Homo sapiens: one gene and its partners. The protein of the gene in region 4 purifies or fractionates together with the protein of the main gene of each other region. This does not show direct contact. Each region holds a gene or a part of one and is shown on either strand. Other genes may lie near its edges.

Evidence for each region. Proteins that work in one complex are often made in the same cells at the same time.
Region 1: the proteins of HDHD5 (region 4) and NPTN purify together in Homo sapiens (co-immunoprecipitation; one large-scale study listed by IntAct). This does not show direct contact.
Region 2: the proteins of HDHD5 (region 4) and SPSB4 purify together in Homo sapiens (co-immunoprecipitation; one large-scale study listed by IntAct). This does not show direct contact.
Region 3: the proteins of HDHD5 (region 4) and MSRB2 purify together in Homo sapiens (affinity purification with mass spectrometry; one large-scale study listed by BioGRID and IntAct). This does not show direct contact.

Annotation. Positions count from the first base shown.
Region 1 is NC_000015.10:73,623,028-73,626,889, forward strand, and holds part of NPTN (neuroplastin isoform b precursor), read right to left. Parts: intron 1-3,862. UniProt on the Homo sapiens protein: Probable homophilic and heterophilic cell adhesion molecule involved in long term potentiation at hippocampal excitatory synapses through activation of p38MAPK. May also regulate neurite outgrowth by activating the FGFR1 signaling pathway.
Region 2 is NC_000003.12:141,054,347-141,058,208, forward strand, and holds part of SPSB4 (SPRY domain-containing SOCS box protein 4), read left to right. Parts: intron 1-3,862. UniProt on the Homo sapiens protein: Substrate recognition component of a SCF-like ECS (Elongin BC-CUL2/5-SOCS-box protein) E3 ubiquitin-protein ligase complex which mediates the ubiquitination and subsequent proteasomal degradation of target proteins.
Region 3 is NC_000010.11:23,102,079-23,105,940, reverse strand, and holds part of MSRB2 (methionine-R-sulfoxide reductase B2, mitochondrial precursor), read right to left. Parts: intron 1,798-3,862; coding exon 1,697-1,797; intron 1-1,696. UniProt on the Homo sapiens protein: Methionine-sulfoxide reductase that specifically reduces methionine (R)-sulfoxide back to methionine.
Region 4 is NC_000022.11:17,152,441-17,156,665, forward strand, and holds part of HDHD5 (haloacid dehalogenase-like hydrolase domain-containing 5 isoform 2 precursor), read right to left. Parts: intron 1-4,225.

The DNA of each region.
Region 1 (3,862 bases), on a different chromosome or scaffold from region 4:
CTTAGGAGTTAGGATGAAAGTGTCCTTTTCCAGGTTTTTAATAGCATACATTTACCATATAAAAGAAAAAGCTTAATTTCTAATGGCCAAAGGTTATACTTTTACTAGGTTTCATATAAAGTCTAACGGGCTCTTTATTATCTAGGCTTCTTTGTATTCAACACGTATTGGAAGGATTTCATAGTTTAGCTTTTTGATAACAAAAAGAAGTTGCTTCTGAAGGTTATAGTAAGCAAAATTCTGTTCTAATATCACAGGCAAGTCCTAAAAGCTACCTTAATGGATTCCAAAGTTAATCTACCATTTTACTTGGATTCATAATCATAGAAGTTTAGAGCTAGAAACACTAATTTCTGATCTTTAAAAACTTCTGGCTGGCAGGGGGGCTGTGGCTCATGCCTGTAATCCCAGCACTTTGGGAGGCACAGGCAGGAGGATCACTTTAGTCCAGGAGTTTGAGACCAGCCTGGGCAACATAGGGAGACCTCATCTCCACAAAAAATTCAAAAATTAGCCAGGCATGGAGGTATGCGCCTGTGGTCCCAGCTACTTGGAAAGCTGAGGCAGGAGGATCACCTGAGCCTGGAAGGTTGATGCTGCAGTGAGTAATGATCACGCCACTGCATTCCAGCCTAGGCAACAGAGTGAGACCCTGTTTCAAAACAAAACAAACAACAGAAAAACACACTAACTTTTGAAAAGTCCATTTCATTTCATATTCATTTCCATATTTTTCTCTCATTGAGCTTCTAAACAAGCACAGTACTATGTAAGAAAGAGATCATTTCTGTTTTTGAGTACCCTCTCAACCAGCTCTTTGTCCTACTTATAATGGTTCTGACGATGAGTGCAAATAACTCTATTCTTCCGCTAGTTTCATTAAAATCATCTTAATACTAAACCTATGCTTTCTTCCCTGTGCTCTAGGCCATTGCTCTTTGATACAGCCCATCCATCTTTGGAGACTGCCTAATTCCCTTACTTCATTTACACTGCTACCTTGAAAGTATTAATAGATAATCACATCCCCCTAGTGCTCCCTGTTCCTAAGTTTAGCTCCTTCAGGCTTTTCTCCTAAATCTTAAGCTACCATCAACATAGATTCTATGTCTCTTCCAAAATGTGGTTAGAAAGTATTCTTATTTGGAGTTCAATCCTAGTAGAAAACAGTAATGCTGTTAGGTTAGCACCATACTTTTGATACGTGATCACTATGTTATTTGTGTAAGGGTAATTCAATGACAGTTCACTGCAAGCTATTTGAAACCTCTTTATACTTGCTTTTTTCCAGGTAGCAGTTTCCTGGTTTGCATTAAGGCCATTTATTTCATCTCCCTTGATGCACGATTTGAGATTCAGCATTAATGAATATAATTTCAATGCTGGAGCTCCTTGTGCTATTTTTTTCCAGTTGTTCGGCAATGATTCCCAAACCTGCTAAACTCGTATAATCAAAAAAATCCCAAGTTAAATTTAACACATTCCTTCAATCTATGAATTTAGAAGTTTTTCACAGATAGTTGCCAACAAAGGAGGACATCTTGTTGCCTTTTTTTCCTCCAGGAAGCAGTGTCTAAAAACTAGGAAATAATCCCACTACTCTAGGATCTTAAACATGAACGGCAGATGATTCTTTAGTGATGGTTCTGCTTACCCTCTCTCTCTCTTCCCTTGGCCAGTATTCAAGTCAATCTGTACTCAACAGAAATGTGCCTCAGACTACAGCAACCAAGTAAAGCATTTGGCTTAGAATAAACATTAGTACTCCCAGCCCTGCAAACTCAAAGGCTCAGGAATAAGGAACACAAGGTCTAATTTAAAAGGAAGGTCAACTGAATATACTGGAAAAGTTATGTCTTGATTATATTCAAATTACTGTGGCTTCCCCTTTTTCTAAAGTTCTAAAAGGAAAAAAAATCGCTATATATAATGGCTAATGTATAAATCCAAAATGTTTTATTTTCTTTACTCATAATGACTAATAACAGTATATGCTGATATTACTGATAAATGTCTAGTGAAAATCCTTGTGTTAACAAAAATCATAATTATTCCAGACTAACATGGCATGTAAAAAATAAACAAAAGCCCCAAACTACTCCATACCTGAAAATGCTGTTTTTCAAACTGAGTTTCACGGCCCATGAATTGTGAATTCAATTTAGAAGGTCACTATGGTTCTCTTAACTACCTCACACAGATTAATAATAGGTAATGTTTCACAAGATATTACATATTTGTGTAATTTTGTTATAAATTTCTATTAGTCAAAAACTACTTCTCTATCTGGGTCACAGACAAAAAAGTTTGAAAGCCTTTTTCTAAAGAGCTTTTTTTTTTTGAGACGGAGTCTGGCCCTGTCACCCAGGCTGGAGTGCAGTGGCATGTTCTCGGCTCCCGGGTTCACGCCATTCTCCTGCCTCAGCCCCGAGTAGCTGGGACTACAGGTGCCGGCGACCACCCCTGGCTGATTTTTTGTATTTTTGGTAGAGATGGGGTTTCACCGTGTTAGCCAGGATGGTCTCGATCTCCTGACCTCGTGATCCGCCCACCGCAGCCTCCCAAAGTGCTGGGATTACAGGAGTGAGCCACCGCGTCCGGCCAAGAGCTTTATTTTTCAAGTAATTTCAACATGATTACATGTGAACCAAATATTATCTTTTACTCATATAAACTAACCCCTACTGACTACATTTCAGGTCCTAGAAAATTCTAGTTTGCAATGTAATTTTTAGGTTATTTTTAAATTAATAAGTAGCAAGGGTGTAGCTGAAACTAGATGATGAATACACAGGGGTTTATTCATTACTTAATCTATTTTTGTACATGTTTGAAATTCTAAAGATCTAAAAGAAAAAAAGGAAAAGAAATGGACCTAACAGATAACAAAGTAGTACCATGAATGTTTACAACTTGAGACCTTTAAACACAATGTTTCTAAGGAATAACAATCAAGGAACTTGCTAGGATTTAATTCAGTTAACACTTGGGGTTGCCTTCTTCGACTATAATGGACGGATTTCCAGGTCTTAAAAAATGCATAAGGGACTGCAGAAACTAACTCATATATAGAAAACAAACTTTCTCGAAAGATAACATAAAAATACAAATAGTTAAGTGTGTTTCATTGTCTCTTTATTAGTCAACCACTTTCAGCCAACAGAAAGATCATAAAATACCTACCTACCTGGCAGGAATATTCACTTCTTTATTCACACTGGCAATTTTCCCAGCAAGTTTAATATAAGATCTCTGCATAACAGACACGGTTCTGCCTCCCTTGAAACAAGAACTGCAAGGGTTGTCTGAAGTAGATTTAGAGGCATTTAGATTTCAAAACAGTGCATGCCTCAAAGTTAATTTTCATTATATTCAAAAGTAAGTTTCTAAAAACTTTTAAACAGAAAGTGTTATCATCTCTGAGCCTTTAACCTATTGGAGACAGTATCTAAGCTATAAGGGCAAGATATTTAGTAATTTTTAGAACTGAAAGGAAATTTAGACATCATCTAGTCCAATGGTTTCCAAATCCTACCATCAGGAAGAAAAGAATCTCAAAGGCATAACAATTTATATATGCAAAACAAACTCTTACTTGTGTGTTTTCCTGTATCTTCCTGCACATGAAATACTATGCCTTATTAGTATTCTATCAGGAAAGGATGTGACATTTCGTTATGCATTTTATATTTAATCACATTTAGTATGTGAGTATCCATTTAGATATGATTAAAACTATTGGTACGATTTGGGACTTAATGCTTTCTAATTATAGAAACTTACATAATATATCCAACCCTAATACTTTCAGAGTGATTTCATACCATCTCATTTATATTTCACTGTCTAGTAAATTTGAAGT
Region 2 (3,862 bases), on a different chromosome or scaffold from region 4:
ATAGTATGTACTCTTGATTTATGTGAACATGACCATCTGTGGTAAGAAAAGATCAACTATAAAAAATTTTTAAACCAGCAACACGTTTTTAATAAAACATGGTTCCTACATAAGCCAACTAATTTATTTGCTGCTGATCAGTTCAAGAAATAGGGATTTGTTTTGAGGCTATAGGAAAAACAGTTGTGGGTGGTGTGCCCTTTGGGAAAGAGGTGGTATACCTCAAACCAGTTATCATGAACTTTGTGTGGAACTTTAGAAGAACTTTCCTAAGCAGTGTTGATTGCATGTGATTTTTGCTTCACACATTGAGTTCAGAACTTACTCCATTTAAAATGTATACGTGTGGTGGTTCATGCCCGTAATCCCAGCACTTTGGGAGGCCGAGGCGGGGGGATCGCAAGGTCAGGAGATCGAGACTATCCTGGCTAACACAGTGAAACCCCGTCTCTACTAAAAATACAAAAAATTAGCCCGGCGTGGCGGCTTGCGCCTGTAGTCCCAGCTGCTGGGGAGGCTGAGGCAGGAGAATGGCATGAACCTGGGACGCAGAGCTTGCAGTGAGCCGAGATGGCACCACTGCACTCCAGCCTGGGCAACAGAGCGAGACTCCGTCTCAAAAAAAAAAAAAAAATGCAAACCATGCAGGAGGTATAGAGTGGCTAGTCCTTCTTCAGTCTGACAAGCACGTCTTAATGCAGCCAGAGGTAACAGGTACAAGGCTGTGTACGAGTATTGGAGATAAAGGCTGGTTGGGCACTGGCTCCATTAAGAAATGCAGATGTGGTGCAAGAGATAGCAGCAGGAATCAACAGCTAAGATGAAGACAAAGTGGGTTGGAGGGCAGAGGGTGCAGTGGGACGTAGGCAAGAGGACATAATGGGGCGGAGGGAAGAGGATGTAGTGGGCTGAGGGGCTGCCACGGAGGGGTGCCCAGTTCTGCTTCTGCTAGAAGGGGCAGGGGAGTGAGAGAATGTCAGCCAGGTCAGAGAAGATGGGAAGAGTCCCAGGATGTGCTGACGAGGAGAGTCTGGCATGACTGGTCTGAGGTGGGCCGTGATGACAGACAGTGTGGAAGAAATAAGAGCAGCCTGGAGGGCCCCTGGGTGCCAAGCAAAGAGGTGCAGCTTCTCTCTGGAGAAGCTGCCTGGAGGGTTGAATGAAGAGATTGGTGGGTGTCTTGGTCCAACTTACCTGTTGGCAGCATGGAGAGTGGGTTGGCGGGCAAACAGTGGAGTCAGGGAAGCCTGCTAAGAGACCAGTGGAGTAATCCAGGCAAGTTCTGAACTAGGGGAAAGCTGACGGGGTTGAGTGGTGGGGACCAAGAGACGGGATCCATGGCAGGAACAGTGACATGCAGAGGAACCTGGCATGTGAGAGAGGGAAGAGGCCAGGCTCAGCCTAGGACCTGCAGATTCCGAGGTGCACATGGACCACAGATGTCCCGCAGGGCTGAGAGTGTGGGTGTGCCCATGGTAGGAGGCTTATGATGGAAAGAGGTCAGCTGGCCTTACAAGGTCATTTGAAACAACACCCAGGCAGGGCTGACCAGGGGCTTCTAGTAGGTAGGTCTTGTGCTGAGGAGAGAAGGCAGCACTGGAGACCCGGCTTGAGAGTGTCTGCACGGGGCTGGAGATGCAGGTCATAAGAGAAGATGCATGGAGAGAGAGAGTGAAAAGCGGAAACTGAAGTTGAAGCAATGGACTTGGGGGTGCCCCATTGATGGGGTAGGCAGGAAGACATTGGAGCCAGGAGGAGGCAGGAAAGCTGCTGTGGTAAGCTCTACACTTCAATGTGCTGGTATGTGTGGTGGGAGACGCTGGAGCAGTGCCAAAGTCATCCATCTGACCTTTAATGTTGTGAAATGTCATGTATGGTGAACTGGAGCTCTGCTTTCTCCAGAAGTGAGTGGGCCTTGGCCCGGTTTACTGGCCACAGAGACATTCTACCTGTTATCTACCTTCAGGAGACATCTACCTGTTATCTGCATTCTATGAAATGTGCAAGTTGTACAGATTCCTGGGGCTGGAGCAGCTCCCTCCCCGATCCTGCTCCCTTTCTCCTCTCTTCCTCTCATCCTCTCTCCTTTCCTCCTTAGTATCTCAAAAATGCCCCCAGAGATACTGTAGGCTTAACAGAGGGATCTTCAGAAATCCCAGCAGGTCCCTATTATGACCTGGCTCAAGCCAGAGGCATGAATAGTTCTGCTTTTCTTTTAGGCATTCTGTTTCCAGACAACCAGTTATACCAAGTGGAGAAGGTTCATCTTGGGAGGTAAATGAGGGATTGGACGCAAACCTTATCATGTTTTCATCATCGTTTTCCCCAGAGGGCTTCATTAAATGGTACCCTTCCCATCTTCTCCCTTCATGCTTTGACCCAGCCCAGACATGCTGGGCCTCAGGGAATCCAGCTGCCCTGCAAACAACCTCCACATGTGCCTGGGGCAGGCCTCTGGGCTCAGGGGCAGCTGTGGTGACCGGGCTGGCCCGGACTGCACGTGGCCTTGCTGTCTCAGTGGTATGTCTCTTTCAAATGACCTTGCAGAGCTTGCTGCCCTGGTCACAGCCTAGCAAACCTCCTTCATCCCATTTGCTGCTCTCCTTGCTGGCTGACAGCCCAGCTTGCACCTTGGGGGCCCCTGGCTCAGTCACGCGTGGGAGGATTCCCATGGAAACCCCAGGAGGAGGAGAGGCTCAGGGAAGCCTCATTGATTCTCGCTCCAGGAAAACAGGCGTGAGATGATTCCACCTGGAACTGGACAGATGGCTCTCTTTGTGAGCTCTTGGGGAAGAAAGGGCTTGCCCAGCCAGTTGTAGCCTGAGCTCCATGTGTGTATAGCAGGGAAAAGCTAATGAATGCCTATGAACAAAACCTTGGGGGTTCTTTAGTTCATTCATTGTTGGTGGGTTCATTCTGAATGAGCATCTTTAATAAAACAGCCTCCCTACTTAATATTTGCACAAGAAAAATCTTAAAAACATTCCAGTTAAACTAAGGTCAGGCACCTATCATTGGTACCTTTGCACAGAGTCAAAAATTGAAAAATAAAGACATGAAATAAATAGTCTGAGCTCACAGTGCTCTGCATTCCCAGTTCATTCTTAAGTGTTGGTTCTTTCTAAGGCAGTGTATTGCTTTTCTTCATTTGTTCGTGCTCGTGCATTCCATAGACGTTCACCCACCACTTTCTCTAAGCCAGGTCCATGGGGACTCTGATGAGGGACACCCGGCCCCTGCTCCCAAGTTGCCCCAGTCCGATGGGAGGGAGGCAGCCAAAGAGACATCATGTCCCCTTGTGATAAGAGCTGTGGTGGGCACAAGTACAAGGGCTCTGAGAGCACAGGGGGCTGGGGAGCTCCCCAGAGGCACTAATATCTAATATCCTGAAAGCCTCAGAGAACCTGTCGAGGATTTTGAGCAGGAGCGTGATTAGATCAACTGTGTACTTTTACAAGTGCAGTAGTATATATTTGAAAGTAATATGCAGTCTATAAAGGAATTCCAGTGGTATCTAACTGGATTTCTTTTTACAGTCTTTGTCATTATTCAGATCTCTCGTGGAGTCTGACCCCTTTGGTGTAGGCTGTCTCCCTAAGGGAAAGTGGTTGAGTCTTATGCTTTTCAGCAGCCTGAGATCCCCAGGGCAGGCATCATTACTGCTGGCTAGATGAAAGAAGGAGACTTGCCCCCACCTCTGGCTCCAGCAAGTCCAAAGCCAGAGGCCACACAGAGAGAAGGGCATTTCACGCAGTCACTACCAATCCCCACAGCAGTCATGTCTTCTTGCAGACCCCGTGCCTATTGAGCTCAGCTAGACAGGCCTCTGTGGCTGTGATTTTGGGTCCCAGGCCTCTGAAGA
Region 3 (3,862 bases), on a different chromosome or scaffold from region 4:
CAAATGGCTAATGTAGTCTCTTTCCCAACAAGGGCTTTAGTAAAATCCCGCCTACAGGAAGTTTTCAAAAATACCAGCATTTCAGGGGACTTTATTGGAATGTGCTGGCCCTTCTGATGACTTTAGCATTGGAAAAACTGAGGGTGAGACCATGATTACAATGGCAGTGCATGTGGGTAGTGACATGAGTTTTGCAGGTGCTGACAAAGGAAAAAACATTCATACTCTACTATGTTTGAAGCCACAGGGCTGGGGTCCACTCTGTGGGATCTGCTTCACTAGTAAAAATATCTAATAACAAAGTTCAATTCAAAAAAGCTACATTCCAGTAGCTATATTTGGGTCTAAGACAGACCACTTGTTAAGCAACGCGGCACTATGTTCTCATTTATATGTGAGAGCTAAAGAATTTGAACACATGGAGGTAGAGAGTGGAAAAATGGATAACAGAGCCTGGAAAGGGGGTTTCCTACCCTGGAAAGCAGGGGGTAGGGGGAGGATGAAGAGGAGTGGCTTAAAGTCCACAAACATACAGTAAGAGAAAAGGAATACACTCAGTGTTTGATGGCAGAGTAGGAGGATGACACTTAACAAAAATGTATTGTATTCGGGTGACAGACACCCTAAATACCCTGACTCGATTACTATGCATTATATATGTGTAACAAATTTTCTCAAGTACCCCAGAAACTTGTATACACACACACACACACACACACACACACACAGACACACAGAGAGAGAGAGATAAATGTAGCACTGTAAAAAGTGGTGTTATAATGAAGAACCACTGAGGGTTGTTCTCTCAGAAAATGAATGAAAGCTGAGATTGCCAAATGCAGTTTAAATAATGTTTCCACCTCTTACCCGGCAGTCATTCAACATTCACAAAAGTTGATTTTTCGGATGCCTACTAGGCCAGCCACCACGTTAGGTGCCAGGGGTTACAGCAGTGATGGCAAATGCTATGAAGGAAGAGTTCTGCTAGAAGCAACCCTAGCTGGGGGCTAGGAGAAGGTTTGCCAGAGAAAGTGAGATTTGGGCCGAGAGCTACAAGGTAGGTCTGAATGAATGGGTGGAGAGTGTGGGGAGGGATGACGGGAGAGAAGAAGGAAAGCTGGGTGCAAAGGCCTTAAAAGAGAAGGGAGCCCAGGGCATGTGAGAGCTCAAGGGTGGTGTGGCCAAAGTACCGTGTCAAGAGGGAAGATGGCTGGATTTGAGGATAGGGGTGGGAGCCAGGGGCCGTTAGGACCTTATTAGCCATCTCATACTTTTCTTTTTCCTTGAAAGCACTGGGCAGCCACCAAAGGTTTTGAGCTGGGGAGTGATATGGTCAGATCTGTGTTTTCCAAAGAACTCTTTGGCTGCAGTGTGGAGAATGGGTTGGCTGGAGCAAGAATGGCCATGCACAGAGAAGGTGATGGTGACTTGGCCCCACGGGGAGGTGACAGCGGTGCATGGAAGTGAAATGACAGGAAGGTTATTTAGGAGTCAGAATAGAGATGCTGTGTCCAGAGAAAAGTTTCAGGTTTCTACAACTCGATGGATATCAACACCCCGAGAAGGGCACAATGGAAGAGGAAGACCAGGCCTGTGGAGTGTTGCTGGGCAGCTGGGTTTCATAGCTGGACCTATTCCAACTGGCCCCTCACTGCCAACACATGCAATCAGAAAACTGTAAACCAGCTTAGCTTACCGGTTCCGTTCCCTTTTCTCTTGTGACGTAGAACTGCTCCGGGGTTAGTTTCTTTTGCCACTCACTCTTGGCAAGAGGCAGCTCACACGTTGCAAGAGACCCTGTATTGTTAAACAGGAATTTTAAAAATTAAAACAAAAATGCCTGATGGACTTTTCTTCCTTGACCTTTTTCCCTAAGTGTACTGTCACCCAGCAGAATAATCCAGTCCCTTCCTCTCTCTCCCACGAGTTTATTCTTCATGGGGACCAGAAGGCTCAGGCACAAAATGCCTTCATTGACTATTTAATTTAATAAGAAATTAACAAGAAGTAGAGAGCCAGTTTTCTAGTCTTCCTGGGGCACAGAAGTGAAAGAGGCAGCTGAAATATGAAAGAATGCGGAATACATTCCCTTCGGGTACCTAAGGGTAGAAACTGATCCTCTCTTCTCTGATGACTTTTAGAGGAGCAGTTGCTGTCAGAATCTAGCCAGAAGTAGTTGAGGCATTGGGCAGAAAAGAACTGTGAGCTAGTCGGTTATTAAACTCTTCTCCCTTGCTAGTTTATAAGGATATCTCTGATTTTCTTTGTCAAGGGAGGTCTCTATTTTAAAAATCTTCTTGCATGGAACAAAAGAAGAAACTCCCATAGCATATAGTCCTGAAAGAGAAACAGACCTACCATAATCTATTATGATGCTTCATGGTTTTTGTCCATATTTTGTTTTCTTCTTTCCTACTCACCTTGGCATCTATATTACTACATTTATTCACGTGAGTGTAAACCAAGTAACTAGAGCAATACTCTCTTTAGCCAAAGGGAGTAGGAAGCCCAACTCCTATAATAAATGTTTTTAATCATCCAACATTAAGAATCTGAAAGGATTTTATAATGTGTCCAACTCTTCAGTTTGCAGATGAGAAACAGAGGCCCAAAGGGTTAGTAATCTGACTATGGCACTGAAGATGAAACGTTGAATGCCCGTGATGCCAGCACCTATATATCAAACACGTCAGAAGTTACAGTTGAAATTCATTTTAGGTTACAAAAAAAGTCCTAAATTATCCTTCGGCAAGAAAAGACTTATCTCCTCTCCAGTTTATAATACTGAACAATACTGCATTTCCAGTGATACATATAGTTGATTGCTTACATTTTGCTAAAAGGTTTTTAGGCTATTTAATATATTAAAAGTTTTCTTCTTTCTTTTTATTACTGTTATTATTTTTACACAAGGGCTCCCCTAGGAGGTATCTTTTATTAAATACAATCTTTATAAGACTACAGGGGTTTCTTTTTGCTATGAAAATAGATCTCTGAAATTCCTATGGAATATACCTCAGTTAACACATGATTTTTGGGGTATTCGACACTTTGGGAACAAAACAAAATGTATTTATGTGATAATTACTATTGCTCAATGGCCTTCAGAGTTATCACGCAGAATGTCAAGTAATAAATGAAGAAGGAAGTATAGAATTTTTAAAATCACCATTTTGTAAAAATCATCAGAGGATTCTAAAACCCCTGGGTGAAAGACTACTGGGGAACAGATAGTCACATCTTCTCAAAATACAACCCCAAAGTTTATTAATTACAAAAAAGAAAATGCCACTACTTTAACCAAGTAGGCTAAGTTAGCATCACCAACAGTGGGACAAGTGACATCCTGTCTTCCTGATGTGATGCTCTGGAAAGGACACAACATCACCAGTAAAGTTTTCCTGCTGAAAACATTCAATCAGTGTCTCATGAAGAAAAAATCACATAAGTGAAAATTGAGGGAAATTATTCAAAAGAAGGACTGTCCACAACTAAAACCAATGTGTGACCCTTTATTAAATTCTAGATCCCAGAAAAAAAAACAAGAGCTATAAAAGACATTGTTGGTATATGGTGGGAAATTTGAATATCAACTGTGTATTAGACAAGGGTGCTCAATTTCCTGAGAGGAAAACTGTCTTGCAGTTTTGTAGGAAAACATCTTTGGTCTTAGGAAACATGCCGAAATATTTAGCAGTAAAGTGTCATGATGTCTGCAACTCTCAAATGGTTTAGCAAGAGAAATATAAATAAGTAAGTGTGAGTGTGTGAGTGTACGTTTGCGCGTGTGTGTCTCAGTGTTGGGGAGAGAGATGGGGAAGAGCACATGAATCTAGAAAGGAACTGCATCTCTATGAGATTT
Region 4 (4,225 bases):
GGAGCCACACGGACTCCCATGCTTTTTTATTTTGGTCTGGGAACCCGGGAGGGTGGATGCGGGTATGAGTCACTGAACCAAAGGGCACAGTAGGAGCGGGCAGCGAGAGGTCATTGGAGGATACAAGGTTAAGTCCCACTTTGGACCTGGGAGACAGGCAAGTGGAGACATCAGCACTGGACAGGTCCTGGAGATGAAAATTTTGGAAGGTCTCGCCTCTCAGAGAACCAGGAAGAACAATACTACTTAATAATGGACCACACAAGACCTGCCAGCAAAAGACAGTGCAAGGAGGAAAACCAAGAGCGTGTGGGGTCCAGGAAGCTGAGGTATGTCTCGGGTCCAGTAAAACAGGGACTGGAGTGGCTGTAATGATCCCATCTTCTTTCCACTGAACAGGCAAGACCCCCGGGAGAGGCAATCTTCCAGCTCCTCCTCCATGTTAGCTTGTACATGAGCCCTCCAAGCTTGGACAATGACAGCTACAGAGCCAAGCAGGAGGAGGGCAGGGACCCTGGAAAAACAGGAGGAAGCAACTCGAGCCAACAAGATATCACACCTGAACACCAAAAAACAGCTGCCAAGAGAAAACTGACCAAGCCCCACACGCCACACAGGAAATGCCTGGACAAATGGTGCCTCTAACCCTTGGCTTCACAGGCTTATGCTGTTGCACCCAGACCTGTCACTGTCCCAAGCACTCAGCCAGACATGTAACAAAGGCATTTTTATGTATTCTTTTTGGCAGCCCTTTGAGGAAGTGTCAGCATCTCCAAATGGCCTTGCCTGGCAAAATGTGCCGGTTTATACAAGGTGTTCAATATACAGGCACTAAATTACCTGACTGGACAAATAAGGCATCAACCTCAAAAAGAACTCAGCAAGGGTCACCCAGTTCACAAGTGCTGGATTCAGGATTCAGTCTCAAATTCAGCTGGCAACTCGGCAGCACCTCAGAGAAAACAGGGGACCCCAGGACTGCTTCCCCCACCTCCTGCCAGCTCCCAGCTGTGAGTTCCATTTCTTCTCTCTCCTCAATACACTCATGTACCCTCAAGGATCCCTGGAGCCCCTCCCTATTCCCCAAGAAATCTCACTAGAATGGGGGTCCTAACCTAGGCCCACAGATAGATTTCAGGATGGCCATAAATCCCCTTTAAACACTACAAGCATTTTTCCTGGGAAAAGTAACCATAGCACTTTTCGGATTTCATTTTCTTATTCTTCTCAAGGAGAATCACTACCTGGGCTTAAAGGGAGGAGGGGATGTGATTTGCCCTTTACCCCCATACCTGACACAGTGCTTAGACTCACAGGTGATTGACAAAGGCTGACTGGATGCTGAATGACCCAAAGGATAAATGGTTAGGGAGAAATAGATACTTCCCGACCACCCTATCCCTTTCTGAAGGAAAAGAGTGGCTCTTAGAAAGTAAGTCCCTTAAGGACTGGGTGATTCCAACACTTTTTTGTGGCGTGATCTTGGCTCACCGCAACCTCCATCACCTGGGCTCAAGCGATCCTCCCACCTCAGCCTCCCAAGTAGCTGGGACTATAGGTGCGCACCACCAAACCCACCTAATTTTTGTATTTGGCAGAGATGCGGTTTCCCCAGGTTAGTCTTGTCTCAAAGCTGGTCTCCAACTCCCAACCTCAGGCAATCTGCCCACCTCGGCCTCCCAAAGTGCTGGGATTACAGGCGTGAGCCACCGCGCCCAGCCAACAATTTTTTTAAGAAACAGTGTTTCTTTAAGAAACTTGGCTGGGCACAGTAGCTCACGCCTGTAATCCCAGCACTTTGGCAGGCCGAGGTGGGCAGATCGCCTGAGGTTGGGAGTTCGAGACCAGCCTGACCAACACGGAGAAACCCTGTCTCTATTAAAAATACAAAATTAGCTGGGCGTGGTGGCACATGCCTGTAATCCCAGCTACTCGGAAGGCTGAGGCAGAATTGCTTGAACTCGGGAGATGGTGTTTGCAGTAAGCCAAGATCACATCGTTGCACTCCAGCCTGGGCAACAAGAGGGAAACTCCATCTCAAAAAATAAATAAATAAAAACAAAAAATAAATAAATAAATTTTTAAAAGGCCTAGATTTTAAGTGATATTAAGGAATTACTAATGTTGTTAGGTATGATACTGGCATCGTGGTTATGTTCAGAATGTCCTTATTTTCTTTTTTTTTTTTTTTTGGTTGAGACAAGACAGGGTCGCACTCTGTCACCAAGGCTGGGTGCACTAGTGTCATCTCAGCTCACTGCAACCTCAACCTCCTGAGCTCAAAGGATCCTCCTGCTTCAGCTTCCCAAGTAGCTGGGACTACAAGTATGTGCCACCACATGCCTGGCTAATTTTTTTTTTTTTTTCTTTTGTAGAGACAGGGTCTCCCTATGTTGCCCAGGCTGGTCTGGAACTCCTGGGCTCAAGTAATCCTTCCAACTCCCAAAGTGCTCAGATTACAGGTGTGAGCCATGGCACCCAGCCAGAATGTCCTTATTTTTCTTAGAGGTACACACAGAAGAATTTAGGTTTGAAATGACAAGAAATCAGAGATTTACTTTAAAATCTTAGAGCCACAAAAAAAGGAGGAGGGAGATAAGCAAAGCAGGTGTTGAAAAATGTTAATCATTGCTCAATCTGGGAGATGGGCACAGGGGTTCATATTATTCCCCATTTTTGAATTTTTGAAAACTTACATAGTTAAAAAACAGCTCATTTGTACAATGGTTGCAAAATTTACCATACATAGTTTTAACGGTCATTGCCTAAACAGTCACAAGATTTGCTTTCCTTTTTTTTTTTTTTTTGTTTGGTTGGTTTTTTTTGAGACGGAGTCTCACTGTCACCCAGGCTGGAGTGCAGTGGTGCAATCTCGACTCACTACAACCTCTGCCTCCTGGGTTCAAGTGATTCTCCTGCCTCAGCCTCCCAAGTAGCTGGGACTACAGACGCGCGCCAACACACCTGGCTTATTTTTTATATTTTTAGTAGAGACGGGGTTTCACCATATTGGCCAGGCTGGTCTCAAACTCCTGACCTCGTGATCCGCCCGTCGCGGCCTCCCAAAGTGCTGGGATTACAGGCATGACCCACCGCGCCCGGCCCAAGATCTGCTTTCTTAAAAATAAGAATCCATAGCCCCTGCTACTTAGAACAGCAAAGTTTTCAGGAAAATTGAGCAATATCCATAAGGCTCCCTCACCCATCACTCCAACCCCTCCCCAACCTTCAGGATGTACACAGAGAACCAGGCACCCAGTACCATAAAAAGTGAAGGTGTACATCAATTATAACAAATGTACCACACTAATGCAAGATGGTAATACAGTCACGCACCATAACGATGTTTCAGTCAATGACACACTGCATATACAATGGTCCCTTAAGATTATAATGGAACAGGAACTCATAGCTGAAGAAGAGGCAAGAGAAAAGGTAGCCACAGAAAGAAAAGAACATCCAAGAAAATTCACAGTGAAGGGTTCAGCAGCTTTTACAGACCTCAAGTTCCTTAAAAAGTCTGAAACATGAACTCCAACGCCAAAAGGTTTTCATTACTAGAGAAGAATGTTTATGGTACATTATCTGTTTACAAGCAAACCTATGACAAAAAAAAAGAAACCAAGCAAACCACAATGGACATATTTCTGATAAGAGTGACACCTCAAGAGCCTCAGAGAGGTCCTTCAGAAGATATCCAGAAGAAAGCACTGTTATCGCAGATGACAGTTCCATGCATATGACTGCCCCCTAAAGACCTTCTAATGGGACATGGTGTGAAGGCAGAAGACAGTGATATCAATTACCTGACCCGACCTTATGTAGGCCTGGGCTAGTAGGTGTTTGTGTCTTCATTTTTAACAAAAGTTAAAAAAAAAAATTTTTTTTAAGGTAGGGCACTGTGGCTCACGCCTGTAATCCCAGCACTCTGGGAGGCCAAGGCGGGCGTATCATGAGGTCAGGAGTTCGAGACCAGTCTGGCCAACATGGTGAAACCCCATCTCTACCAAAGATACAAAAAATTAGCCGGGCGTGGTGGTGCACACCTGTAATTTTTTTTAATAGAAAAAAGCTGCCTGTAATCCCAGCATGTTGCAAGGCCAAGGAGGGCAGATCACGAGGTTAGGAGATCGAGACCATCTTGGCTAACACAGTGAAACCCCATCTCTACTAAAAATCCAAAAAATTAGCCAGGCGTGGTGGCAGGCACCTATACTCCCAGTTA